3 separate regions of the Homo sapiens genome follow, and all the other regions are linked to region 3. The links come from fine-mapping of genetic effects on gene expression. A gene starts in region 3. Each other region holds a variant in brackets. All regions are shown on one strand. Distances are from middle to middle.

The links.
Region 1: its variant is fine-mapped to the expression of CCDC40 in tibial nerve (GTEx, PIP above 0.99).
Region 2: its variant is fine-mapped to the expression of CCDC40 in subcutaneous fat (FUSION, PIP 0.95).

The regions. Positions count from the first base shown.
Region 1 is chr17:80,059,040-80,063,206 of GRCh38, reverse strand. All of the region lies in intron 9 of CCDC40 (coiled-coil domain 40 molecular ruler complex subunit), which reads right to left. LOC124904074 (a long non-coding RNA gene) reads left to right here. Exons shown (of 2, transcript XR_007065931.1): 2 at 3,722-4,167. Among named protein-coding and RNA genes, the nearest start is that of CCDC40, 24 kb to the right of the region's middle. The variant G/A (reference allele first, on the strand shown) is at 2,140.
Region 2 is chr17:80,077,961-80,082,127 of GRCh38, reverse strand. CCDC40 (coiled-coil domain 40 molecular ruler complex subunit) reads right to left here. Exons shown (of 20, transcript NM_017950.4): 11 at 339-582; 12 at 70-252. Among named protein-coding and RNA genes, the nearest start is that of MIR1268B, 19 kb to the left of the region's middle. The variant TG/G (reference allele first, on the strand shown) is at 2,360.
Region 3 is chr17:80,034,885-80,039,051 of GRCh38, reverse strand. It overlaps CCDC40 (coiled-coil domain 40 molecular ruler complex subunit), which reads right to left and starts at 2,410. Exons shown (of 20, transcript NM_017950.4): 1 at 2,361-2,410; 2 at 866-929. The coding sequence starts at 2,389. It overlaps TBC1D16 (TBC1 domain family member 16), which reads left to right and starts at 3,180. Exons shown (of 12, transcript NM_019020.4): 1 at 3,180-3,257. RefSeq lists enhancers at 1,608-1,902, 2,802-2,921 and a silencer at 3,112-3,181.

The DNA of each region.
Region 1 (4,167 bases), 24 kb before region 3:
AATTTTTTTTTTTGAGACACTTTTACTCTCGTCACCCAGGCTGGAGCAAAATGGCACGATCTTGGCTCACTGCAATTTCCGCCTCCTGAGTTCAAGCAATTCTCCTGTCTCAGTCTCCCGAACAGCTGCGATTATAGGCACTCGCCACCACGCCTGGCTAATTTTTGAATTTTTAGTAGAGACGGGGTTTCACCATGTTGGCCAGGCTGGTCTCGAACTCCTGACCCTCAGGTGATCTGCCGACCTCGGTCTCACAAAGTGCTGGGATTACAGGTGTGAGCCACCATGCCCCGCCATATTAAAAATTAATGTATTGTGCCAGGTGCGGTGGCTCATGCCCGTAATCCCAGCACTTTGGGAGGCTGAGGCGGGGGGATTACTTGAGGCCAGGAGTTCCCAACCAGTCTGGGCAACAAAAAGAAACACCGTCTCTACAAAAAGAATAATCATAATAAAAAAATTAGCACGGTGTGGTGGCATGTGCTTATAGTCCTACCTACTTGAGAGGCTGAGGTGGGAGGATTGCTTGGACCCAGAAGTTTGAGGCTACAGTGAGCCATGAGGGCCCCAGTGCACTCCAGCCTGGGGGACAGAGTGAGACTTAGTCTCTACCATCATTCTCAGCAAACTATTGCAAGGACAAAAACCCAAACACCGCATGTTCTCACTCATAGGTGGGAATTGAACAATGAGAACACATGGACACAGGAAGGGGAACGTCACACAACGGGGCCTGTTGTGGGGTGGGGGGAGGGGGGAGAGATAGCATTAGGAGATATACCTAATGCTAAATGACGAGTTAATGGGTGCAGCACACCAGCATGGCACATGTATACATATGTAACAAACCTGCACATCGTGCACGTGTACCCTAAAACTTAAAGTATAATTTAAAAAAAATTAAAATAAGAAATTAATATCGAGACAGGTTTCCATGTCAGTAGAGCTCTTTTTGGTGTAGTGTATTCTGATGCACAGGTGTATGAAAATGGGTTTCACTAATGTCCTCTTCTTGGGGTCTTTCTTTCTGATGACACAACACGGTGATGAGCGTCATCTCCCCCATGAGTCTCTATTCACTGTATTTATTTCTTTAGAGACGGGGGTTTCACTCTGTCACCCAGGCTGGAGTGCAGTGGTGCAATCATAGCTCACTGCAGCCCTGACTTCCTGGGCACAAGTGCTCCTCCTGCTTCAGCCTCCTGAGTAGCTGGGACTACAGGTGCACCCCACCAAGCCTGGCTTTATCATTTTTAACATACAAAAATGTTATCTGCATAGGTCTTTGCTAGGTTCCTTGGAATGGAGTCTAAGCACTAACAGGGTGCGGGGTTAGGGTTAGGGTTAGGGAGGGAGTGGCTGCATATGATCATATCGCCCTGGATGAAGATCTTGATAAAGATAAAGGCCAATCTGTATTTTCATGGCCGACAGCAGGGAGGGCTCATCTCTCCTTATCTTTGCCAACTCTGTAGGGGACTCCCTGTCCTTTGGTTACTTGTGACTTCGCTCGATGAACAGGGGCCCTGCTGTTGCCCCCGCACTGTTCTGGGTACTGGAAATGAGAAATGAAGGAAGTGCGGGCGGCCCCCTTCCCTGGGGAAGTTGCATCGAGGGGAGGGCGGGAGGTGCAAAAGGAAGCATCTACCAAGTAGCCCACCTGCCTCCAGGGTGTGGAAGCACACAGGGCGAGTCTCCTTGGCTTTCAGCCTCTCTTCACAACCCCGGATTTACTAATGGCTGCGAGTTGTCTTCTCCTGCCTGTCTCCCCGCCTTCATCTGGTTTGTGGCGTCCTTAATCTACAAAGGTTTTATTGAGGGTGTGATTGTCCTCCTAGTCTTTTGTTTTGTTTTGTTTTTTGAGATGGATTCTGGCTCTGTCGCCCAGGCTGAAATGCAATGGCATGATCTCGGCTCACTGCAACTTCTGCCTCCTGGGTTCAAGCGATTCTCCTGCCTCAGCCTCCCAAGTAGCTGGCATTACAGGCGTGTACCACCACGCCCAGCTAATTTTTGTATTTTCAGTAGAGATGGGGTTTTGCCATGCGGGCCAGGCTGGTCTCGAACTCCTGACCTCAGGTGATCCAGCGGCCTCGGCCTCCCAAAGTGCTGGGATTACAGGCGTGAGCCACCTTACCC[G/A]GCCCCTCCTAGTCTTTTCCTTTAAGGTTCCTGCTTTTGGTGTTATACTTTGAAAGGCCTCCCCAGCCCAGGATTATATAAATATTTTCATTTGTTTTCGTCTGGCACATTTTCCCCCATTTAAATACTTGATTCCATCTGGAATTTATTTTAGTGTCTGGTATGAGGAAAAGATTTAATTTTTTCCCAAATGATTAACCAAATGTCCCGACATCATTGGATGCATAATTCATTAGCTCTCTGGTAATTTATAATCTACTAGGTTTTTATATAAACTCTGGCTTGCTTTGGGGCTCTCTCATAGGCTTCAATGTCTTGCCTGTCTATCTTGTGACACATTATTTTAGCCTCTAGAACTTTACGGTTTTGTTTTATTTTAGACAGGGTCTTGCTCCGTAGCCCAGGCTGGAGTGCAGTGGTATGATCATATTTCATTGGATCTTTCATAGTTCAAGGATCTTTCATGATCCTTCCTTTTCAAAATTTTCTTGGGTATTCTTGAGCATTTAGTCTTCTAAGTGAACTTTAAAATCAATTCGTTGAGAATAAAGTGTTGTTGTTCTTTTTTTTTTTTTGACCTCCCGGGCTTAAGTGATCCTCCTGCCTCAGCCTCCTGAGTAGCTGGGACCACAGGTGCACACCACCATGGTGGGCTAATGTTTTATTTTTTTTTAATTATTATTTTTTTGTGGAGACAGGGTCTCACCATGTTGCCCAGTCTGGTCTTGAACTTCTGGGCTCAAGCCATCCTCTTGCCTCAGCCTCCCCAAGTGCTGGGATTACAGGTGTGCACCACCTTGCCTGGCCAGAGCTTTACTGTATACTTTAATATTTGGTGCGGCGATGCTAGGGTGATCTGCCATCCTGCTGTGTCCAGGACCCCCTGGGCTTAGCATGGAAAGTCCCTTGTCTTGGGGACCCCTCAGTCCTGAGCAGACTGGGATGGCTGCTTGCCCCGTTTGAATCTTCTCTTCCAAAACCATTCTTGGCTAGCCTTCCTAATTTATTTTTCAGATAAAACTCCAGAATTGTTTTGTTAACTAAGGGATTGTTTGTTCCTGAGATTCTGATTGGGACGTGCTCTACTTTAATTGCATTTGTAGCTGGAGAGACCAGTGCTGAGTAACGCCCAGCCCCGGGCCCTCCCTTTACCCTGGGAGCCCAGCGTGCTCATCCGTTCCTTCAAGTCCTCTTCCTTCTTTTTCATTGGCTGGGCACGGTGGCTCATGACTGTAATCCCAGGACTTTGGGAGGCCGAGGTGGGTGGATCACCTGAGGTCAGGAGTTTGAGACCAACCTGGCCAACATGGTGAAACCCTGTTTTTACTAAAAATACAAAAATTAGCTGGGCATGGAGGTGGGCGCCTGTAGTCCCAGCCACTCTGGAGGCTGAGGCAGGAGAATTGCTTGAATCTGGGAGGCGGAGGTTGCAGTGAGCTGAGATTGTGCCACTGCACTCCAGCCTGGGCGACAGAGCGAGACTCTGTCTCAAAAAAAAAAAAAGTTAATTGTTTCCTCCGTGTCATTCCCGCACCCGTGAATGAAGATGGTGACTCATAGTTTTTTTTTTTTTTTTTTTAAGTTGCAGTAACTTTGGTTTCTGGTGCTACCACTACAGACCTGAATCTGGGGCCAAGAGGGAGCAGCTTTCACCCCCTTCGTTCCCTCCACTCCCTACTCCACGAGGTGCAGAGATGTAGGAGCTACCCGGAAGGCCGGCTGCCCACGGGGGTGAGAATTGTTAGAAAGACTTCAGTCCTCCCCGGAAGAGGTCCCTGCAGGCTAAGGAACTTGCTGAGCATCCCCGCAGCAAGCTGGCCTTGGCGGTCATGAAGCGACTAGAGTACCTGAACCCTGCGAGGCCTTCTGTCACCCACTAGCCAGGGAAGGAATAGGAATCCGGGCTGTCCACCTGTCAGTATCTACTGTGGCCCCACCATGGGGAGGGCCCGATGTTTGCAGATGTAAGCTGGCTGCAGTCACTCATCCAGCAGACGGGCAGGTGCAGTCTAGTAGACCCACCAGCAC
Region 2 (4,167 bases), 43 kb before region 3:
GACGGCTTGCCCTCATATGCCCAGGCTGCAGGGGGCTTCGCACAGCCCCTCCCTGGGGCAGGGGCCTACCATGTTGGTCTTCTCCTTCTGCAGCCTCAGGATGAGCTGGTTGAAGTATTTGGTGGTCTTGTTGGAGGTCATGTGCTCCTGCAGCTTCTCCCGGATGGCAGCATCCGTCTTCCTCCTGAGCTCCAGCTCGCCCTGGATGGCTTGGCGGATGGCCTGCAACTCCTCCGTGAGTATCATTTGTTCCTGGAGACAAGGAGCCACAGGGTGCACGTGCCTGAAGAGGCACCACCGTGCGCCAGGTGTGACCTGTGGGGCGGGCCCGGCCTCACCAGCTGGTCCTGGCTGAGGGCATCCTCTGTGTCCTGCAGGGTGAGCCTGTAGGTATTGAACTGGCTCTGCAGGGCCACCTGCTTGGTCAGGCACTGGGTGGTGAGCTTCTGCAGCAGTGTGGCTTCCGTCTCTGTCCGGTTCAGGATGCTCGCCAGCTTCTCGTTCTTTTCTTCCTCCTTCATGATGGATTTCTTATAGGCCTCAATCTCGCCGTCGGTGGATTTGGCTTGATGCTGGCATCCTCTGTAGAAATGCAGCGGGGAGAGCCAGTTACGTGTGAGACATCAGAGAGCCAGTGCACAGAGCTGCGCCCCACACGAGGGAGCTCACTAAGGCGAACTCAATGCACAGAGAAATAAATTAGGAAGCCAACTCTTATTTATTTATTTATTTATTTATTTTTTGAGACAGAGTCTCACTCTGTAACCCAGGCTGAAATACAGTGGTGCGATCTCGGTTCACTGCAACCTCCGCCTGCCGGGTTCAAGCGAGTCTCATGCCTCAACCTCTTGAGTGGCTGGGATTACAGGTGTGCGCCACCATGCCCGGCTAATTTTTAAACTCTATTTGTAGAGATGGGGTTTCACCGTGTTGCCCAGGCTGGTCTCCAACTCCTGAGCTCAAGCAATGTGCCTGCCTTGGCCTCCCAAAGTGCTGGGATTACAGGTGTGAGCCGCTGCACCCAGCAGGAAACCAACTCTTTTAATAGCAGCCAAATCTTTAAAAAATTTTTATGGATAGATTGGCACATATTTGAGAGGTACATGCGATATTTTGACACAAGCATACAGCATGTCATGATCAAATCAGGGGAACCGGCCATCTATCACCTCACACATGATCCTTCCTTCGTGTTGAGAACATTCCAAATCTTTTCCTCTAGCTATTCAGAAATATACACTAACTTACCGTGAACTGTAGTCACTGTGACATGCTATTGAACACTGGGCCTTGTTCCTTCTCCCTCACTGTATTTTTGCAGCCAATAGCCAAATCTTGACTATTATTTTCAAATAGATCAAGAGAACTATTATCTATTGAAAGCCCAAGTTGACAACTCTTTTGTACTGTGATTATGGGGAGAAGGAAAGTGACGCATGGGTCAGACGTTGGGCTAGGGGTTCTCATCTGCCCACCTTCCTTAACCATGACAATAATCCTAGGAAGGAAATAGTCCAGCTTTACAGATGTGGCCATTGAGACTCAGAGCATTTCAATCACTAGCCCAAGGTCTGCAGGAAACAGCGTGGCTGAGGGAACACCAGTGGGCCCACTTCAAATTCTATTGTCTTTCCCCTCGGCATGCTGCGATGAGATACCTGTAATTAACGTCAAGCTCTAAAACACAGATATCGGATAATCAGATCTAAAATACTGATTCAAATGAAATAATCAGATTCAAATCCTGTATTTGTTGGAGTGCAGAGGCACGATCTTGCCTCACTGCAACCTCTGCCTCCTGGGTTCAAGTCATTCTTACGCCTCAGCATGAGGATTTGAATTTTGTGTGTGTGAGGCATGTTTTCCTATTATTCTGAGATGTTCTGCGGTACTTTAAACATTCCTTTCATTCCTTTCTTTCTTTTTTTTTTTTTGAGACAGTCTCTCACTCTGTTACCCAGGCTAGAGTGCAATGGCATGATCTCAGCTCACTGCAGCCTCAAGCCACTCAAGTAGCTGGGATTACAGGTGTGTGCCACCATGCCCAGCTAATTTTTGTATTTTTGTAGAGATGGGGTTTCACCATGTTGGCCAGGCTGGTCTTGAACTCCTGACCTCAAGTGATCCACCTGCCTCGGCCTCCCAAAGTGTTGGAATTACAGGTGTGGGCCACTGCGCCTGGCCATCCAGTATTTTTTTTTTTGAGACAGAGTCTCGCTCTGCCACTCAGGCTGGAGTACAGTGGCGCGATCTCGGCTGACTGCAACCTCCTGGGTTCAAGCGATTCTCATGCCTCAGCTGCCTGAGTAGCTGGGACCACAGGCGTGTGCCACCATGCCTGCCTATTTTTTTTTTTTTT[TG/G]TATTTTTAGTAGAGACAGGGTTTCGCCCTGTTGGCCAGGCTGGTCTCGAACTCCTGACCTCAAGTGATCCACCTGCCTCAGCTTCCCAAAGTGATGGGATTACAGGCATGAGCCACCGTGCCTGGTGATCCAGTATCTATTTTTAATGTGTGTGGATATTTATTGATCCACTGATGAGATCAGAAAAAGCCAAAAAACAGGAAAGGGCCTCATTATGGATCGATGAGGATGATTAAATTATGGCACAGGCATCATTTAGAACACAGTGTGAAGAGAACTGCAAAGAACAACGGTGATTTCTATGTGTTCTGACATGGAATAACTCTAAGACACAGCACAAGAAACACCAAGCTGCAGAGCGGGACACACTAAGCGGCCGCGGGTGATTTTTAAGTGGAGAGATAAACACCCGAGAATAATGCATATGTATGAACGAAATCTATCTGGAAAGACCTTTATGAAACAGTAACAGGTTGCTTGGGAAAGAGAATTGAAAGACTGGGGAGAGATGTGAGAAAAATATGGAAGGTATTATTCTAGTCCAAGAAGAAAGTACTTTCTGACTATTTGAATAAAAACTTATTCAAAGGATAAGACACTATCAATAGAGAAAGGAAGCCTGGCCCACATGACAAAACCCCATCTCTACTAAAAATACAAAAAAAATTAGCCGGGCGTGGTGGTGTGTGGCTGTGTTCACAGCTACTTGGTACACTGAGGCATGAGAATCACTTGAACCCAGGAGGCGGATGTTGCAGTAAGCTGAGATTGTTCCGCTGCACTCCAGCCCAGGTGATAGAGCAAGACTCTGACTCAAAAAAAAAAAAAAAAAAAGATACTGATACTGGAGAGATTTGCCATGTCCATGAAGCAGAAGATTTAATATTATTAAGGCCTCAATTCTCTTCAAACTGATCTATGGATTCAATGTAATTTCAGTTACATCCCAGAAGGCATTTTTTCCCCAGAAATTGACAAGCAAGTTTTAAAATTTAAATGGAAACCTAAAGGACCTAGAGTAACCAAAATAATTTTGTAAAACAACATCAAAGACTCAGACTATCTGATTTCAAGATTTTCCATAAAGCTCTAGTTAGAAAGACAATGTGGTATTGGTGAAAGAATGACAAAAAGATCAACGGAACAGAATAGAGAGTCTGGAAACAGACACACACACACAATACATTGATCTTTGACAAAGGTGTCACAGGATTTCAATACGGAAAGGACAGTCTTTTCAACAAGTGGTGCTGGGACAACTAGAGAGAGACACACAAAACCTGAGCCTGGACCCCGCTCATACCACAACAAACGTGAACTTGAAATGGACCAGATGCCTAAAAGCGAGACCTGGAAAACTTTAGTGGAAAACTTGGGAGAAAATCTTCGTGACCCTTAGACATTTCTTTTTCTTTCCTTTTTTTTTTTTTTTTTTTGAGACAGAGTCTCGCTCTGTTGCCCAGGCTGGAGTGCAGTGGCGTGATCTTGGCTCCCTGCAAGCTCCGCCTCCCAGGTTCATGCCATTCTCCTGCCTCACCCTCCCAAGTAGCTGGGACTACAGGCGCCCGCCACCACGCCCGGCTAATTTTTTGTATTTTTAGTAGAGATGGGGTTTCACCGTGTTAGCCAGGATGGTCTCAATCTCCTGACCTCGTGATCCGCCCACCTTGGCCTCCCAAAGTGCTGGGATTAGAGGCATGAGCCACACTGTGCCCGGCCTGACCCTTAGAGATTTCTTAGAGAAGACATAAAAAGCATGAATCAGGAAAGAAAATATTTAATAAGTTGGACTTCACAAAAATTTAA
Region 3 (4,167 bases):
TGTTACAGGAAATGAGTTCCGAAAAACTCAGGGCAACCCAAAGTTGGACATCCTTTGCATCCCTGACTAATCACTGACACTGTAGAATGGGGTAGGAAGAAAATGAGTCTCTCTTCAACTGAATTGAGTTTGTTCTGGTGCAAGATAATGTCATCATACAATATACTTGACCAAGTCCTAATTCTCTTTATTTATTTATTTTTAATTTAATTTTATTTATCTATTTTTTGAGATGGAGTCTCGCTCTGTCGCCAGGCTGAGTGCAGTGGCACAATCTCGGCTCACTGCAACCTCCATCTCCCAGGTTCAAGCCATTCTCCTGCCTCAGCCTCCCGAGTAGCTGGGACTACAGGCGTGAACCACCATGCCTGGCAAATTTTTGTATTTTTAGTAGAGACAGGGTTTCACCATGTTGGCCAGGATAGTCTCGATCTTTTGACCTCGTGATCTGCCTGCCTCGGCCTCCCAAAGTGCTGGAATTACAGGCGTGAGTCACCGTGCCCGGCCTATTTATTTATTTTTGAGATAGAGTTTCACTGGTCACCCAGGCTGGAGTGCAATGGTGTGATCTTGGCTCACTGCAACCTCTGTCTCCCGAGTTCAAGCCACTGTCCTGCCTCAGCCTCCCGAGTAGCTGGGACTACATGTGCGCACCACCACGCCCGGCTAATTTTTATATTTTTAGTAGAGATGGGGTTTTACCATGTTGGCCAGGCTTGTCTCAAACTCCTAACCTCATGTGATCCACCTGCCTTGGCCTCCCAAAGTGTTGGGATTACAGGCGTGAGCCACAGTGCCCGTACTCTGATTCTCTTTAATTCCTAGTAAATATAAGCCCGGAATAACTGCCCATAGGGAATTTTACCATGTGGCTTTCATTATTCCCTTCCTTCTCTCCCTCAGAAGCCGATCCATCTTCCGGATGGGACCTGGTTTTAGAGAAACAATTGAACAGTTTCAAGCAACAGCTTTCTTTTTCTTGGTCCTTATCCCCTCCTGAATTCTGCACATCTGTTTATTTACTTGTTACTTCTCTGCCACCCCCAGGCTGTTGTCACGTCTTTGTCCTGTTTGTCAGGAACCATAGCACTATATCATGCCTGTCAGGTGGCGGAGATGCCACAAAAGCAAAGCTCCATGAATGAATGAAAAATATAATTATTAAAACATCGAAGGAACAGCAGGATTAGATCACCCCAGAAAAGTCACCTCAAATATAACTTGTGTCTGGGACAAAACTGGGGAAAAGAAATACAACGTAGAGAAAGTAGCGCGATCAGAGTAAGTGTTCTGGGGACTCTGAGTTTCTCCACGATTTACGTAGCACAGGAATATATATATATATATATATATATGTATATCTTTTTTAAAAAATTAAAGATTCAAGCTATTTTTATCTGTCAAAGGAATATAGATATGTTCAAAGAGACAGACAGTGACAGTTCCCTGTGATCTTCCCTTTCCTTCCCAAGATAATCATTGATAACATTTAGGACCACATTCTTTCAACATTTTTCTATGTTTTAAACACACACACACACCCTGAATTAGAGATCATAGTATACCTACCCTTTTACATTTATGCCTATCGTTTTATTAATAATACCTTTAGTCTTTCCATGTCAATACATACAGACCCACCTTTAAAAAAATGAAACAATACCGATGTGTCTAAGGTAAAAAGGCCAAACTCTTTCCAATCGTTTCTATCCTTTTAAACAGAGCCTAAGCGAGCAGAGGCCCGGTGGCAGGGATCTTCACTCAGCCGCCCTCCCTGTGCGCGCTCAGTGCTTCCACCCAGGCCCCAGGACGGTGACCGCGGACTATCGCGGGCCGCCTAACCGCAGGGACCCCTCCCATCGCGGGTCACCCCCAAGCCTGCGAGAGGGGATCTGTCCTTGCAGGAGGGAGGCGCGGGGCCGGGCTGGTCTCCGGCCACAGCGAGTGGCCCCGGAGCAAGGTCAGGGGCGGTATCCAACAGCCCCGCGCCCTGCAGAGCCCTCTACTCTTAGGAGGACTGCGCGCAGGGACCGCCACGCAGAGTGGTTGCCATGGTGACTGCAGAGTGAGCGGTCCCGGGTTTTAGAGGGAGTCGCGCGCTTGGAGTAGGGGAAAGAGGGAGGCCGAGAGAGGACAAAGGGACAGGAGGGGAGAAGTGAGAAGGGTTGGCGGGGGGGTGAGGGGCTGAACGCAGTGGACGGGAAAGGCCAGCAAAATGGCGAGAGAAGGGACACAGGCGAGAGGAAGGGGGAGTGGAGGCGAAGGGGCGAGGCAGGAGCCGACGCGGGGGCCACCTGGAGCGGTGAACGGAGAGCGCGGCCTGGCGACTCCAAGACCCGCTGCCCCTCGGCCCGGCTTACCGGCCCGCCGCGCCGCCCGGTTCCGCCATTTCCCGTTGCTAGGCGACGCTGTCAACATCCGGCCGGGCCGGGACCACGCGCGCTGCGAGGGCGGGGGCCGCCGGGGGCGGCGCGGCCTTTGTGCCATCTCCACGCACGCAGAGGCGCGCGCCGTCTCGACGTGTCGTCCCTTAGACTGTAATGATTAGAGCACGACCATGCTTTTCCTTTATCGCTCTCTGCGCCCGGGTCCCGCCTCGGCTGCGCTCAATTTCTGTAAAGCGACAGCGGCGTCAGCGTGTGCCCAGCGGGCGGCTCGAGGTCCCGAAGGGACCTGCCGGGCACCTGGGGACCCCGGACTGCTAAGCGCCCGGGAATGGCAGGCGGGCTGGGGGCACCGGGGGCCGGGGACCCCGCGCATGGCGAGCGCTTTTCCATCTCCTGCCCTAGGGGGCTCCGGTGCCCTTCTCCAGGGGTCCTACGGAGACTCCTTGCATGGACGCCCGGGGGGTCTTCCGGAGCGTATCTTCCCTTCCTAGTCCGAAATAGGAGAAATCTCCCTGCAGAGGGCGGCAGCGGAGGGCCAGCGCGCACGCGGAGCGTCCGAGGAGCCCTGCCTTTCCTTTGGGGACGCCAGGCTCGGGACGGGGCACAGTCCCCGAGGCCGGGACGCGGCGAGGCCTGAGGGAGGGCCAGCAGGGAACTAGAGGCTTGGGCCCAGGGCTGGGCCAGAAGGTGGGCGGGGAGACCGGCGGGGGCAGGCAGGGGCCGGGCCGGGGGCGGGCCCGGGGGCGGGCCGGGGGCCGGGCCTCCCCGCGCGTCCCCGCCCCGCCGCGCCTCACTGGCGGCGGCAGCGGCGGAGGCGACGGTGGCGGCTCTCGGAGCCGGCGCGAATCCGGCCCCCGCAGCGGGACCCGGGTGGGTATCGGGGCCCGGACGGGGCCGCGGGGGCGGGGTCCGAGGGGTCCACCGCGCAGCGAGCAGCGCCCCCTCGGCGGAGCTGGGGCGGGGGCGCGCGGGGCGCGTGGGGCGCGTGGGCCTGCAGCCGCGGGACCGGGGAGGGGCCGGGGTCCGGCCGCCGTCCTCGGGGTGCGGGGCGCCAGCAGGAGCGGGAGCGTTGTGGGAGGACCTGGATCACGGAGGGGCACCTGGGGACTTTTCCCCGCGGCGAGTGAGGGCGCCCGGGCCCGGAATGGGCCTAATTCGGGGAGACTGGTCCCCGCCTGTCTGGAGCGGTGGACCGGGGAACTTGCGGTCTTTGTCTGGCTGAATCGGCGGAGCAGACGGATGAGAACTTGTGGGGTGCCGGCGCGCGCCCACACAGCCTCCAAAGTGTGCGTCCCCCCAGCAGCGCGCGCTCAGCTTTCCCGGCCTGTCGGGCTTGGTGGTCTGGGCTGTTTAAGATCCGCGTGTCGGGATACTCACTTCCGTTCCGCCTGGGCTCCCTTGTTCTTTCCTTTGGGAAAAAAAAAAAAAGAAAAAGAAAGAAAGAACGAAAGGAAGGAAAGAAAAAAAGGAAAGGCAACTGAAGATTGCTAAACATAACCTAGGGGATCCTGCCGGAAGCCGCTGAATCCTGAAATCCTGTGATTCCCACACTCGGAAGCTGGTGTCGTATATTGGCCACAAAGTAGTTCAGATTTGATTCAGAAATAGGAAATGAATAGAAAAGACATAACAAAAGTTAGTCTCGCCTTATGGTAAAGTTTGTTTTACTGTCTGGGTCAAGTTCAAATGAGAAGCTGGGCTGATTGGCCAGCCTCTGCGACTTGATCCTGAAGATCTGCTTTCTTTTCTACCAGAAGGCTCCTAATTCTTTTATCTGGAA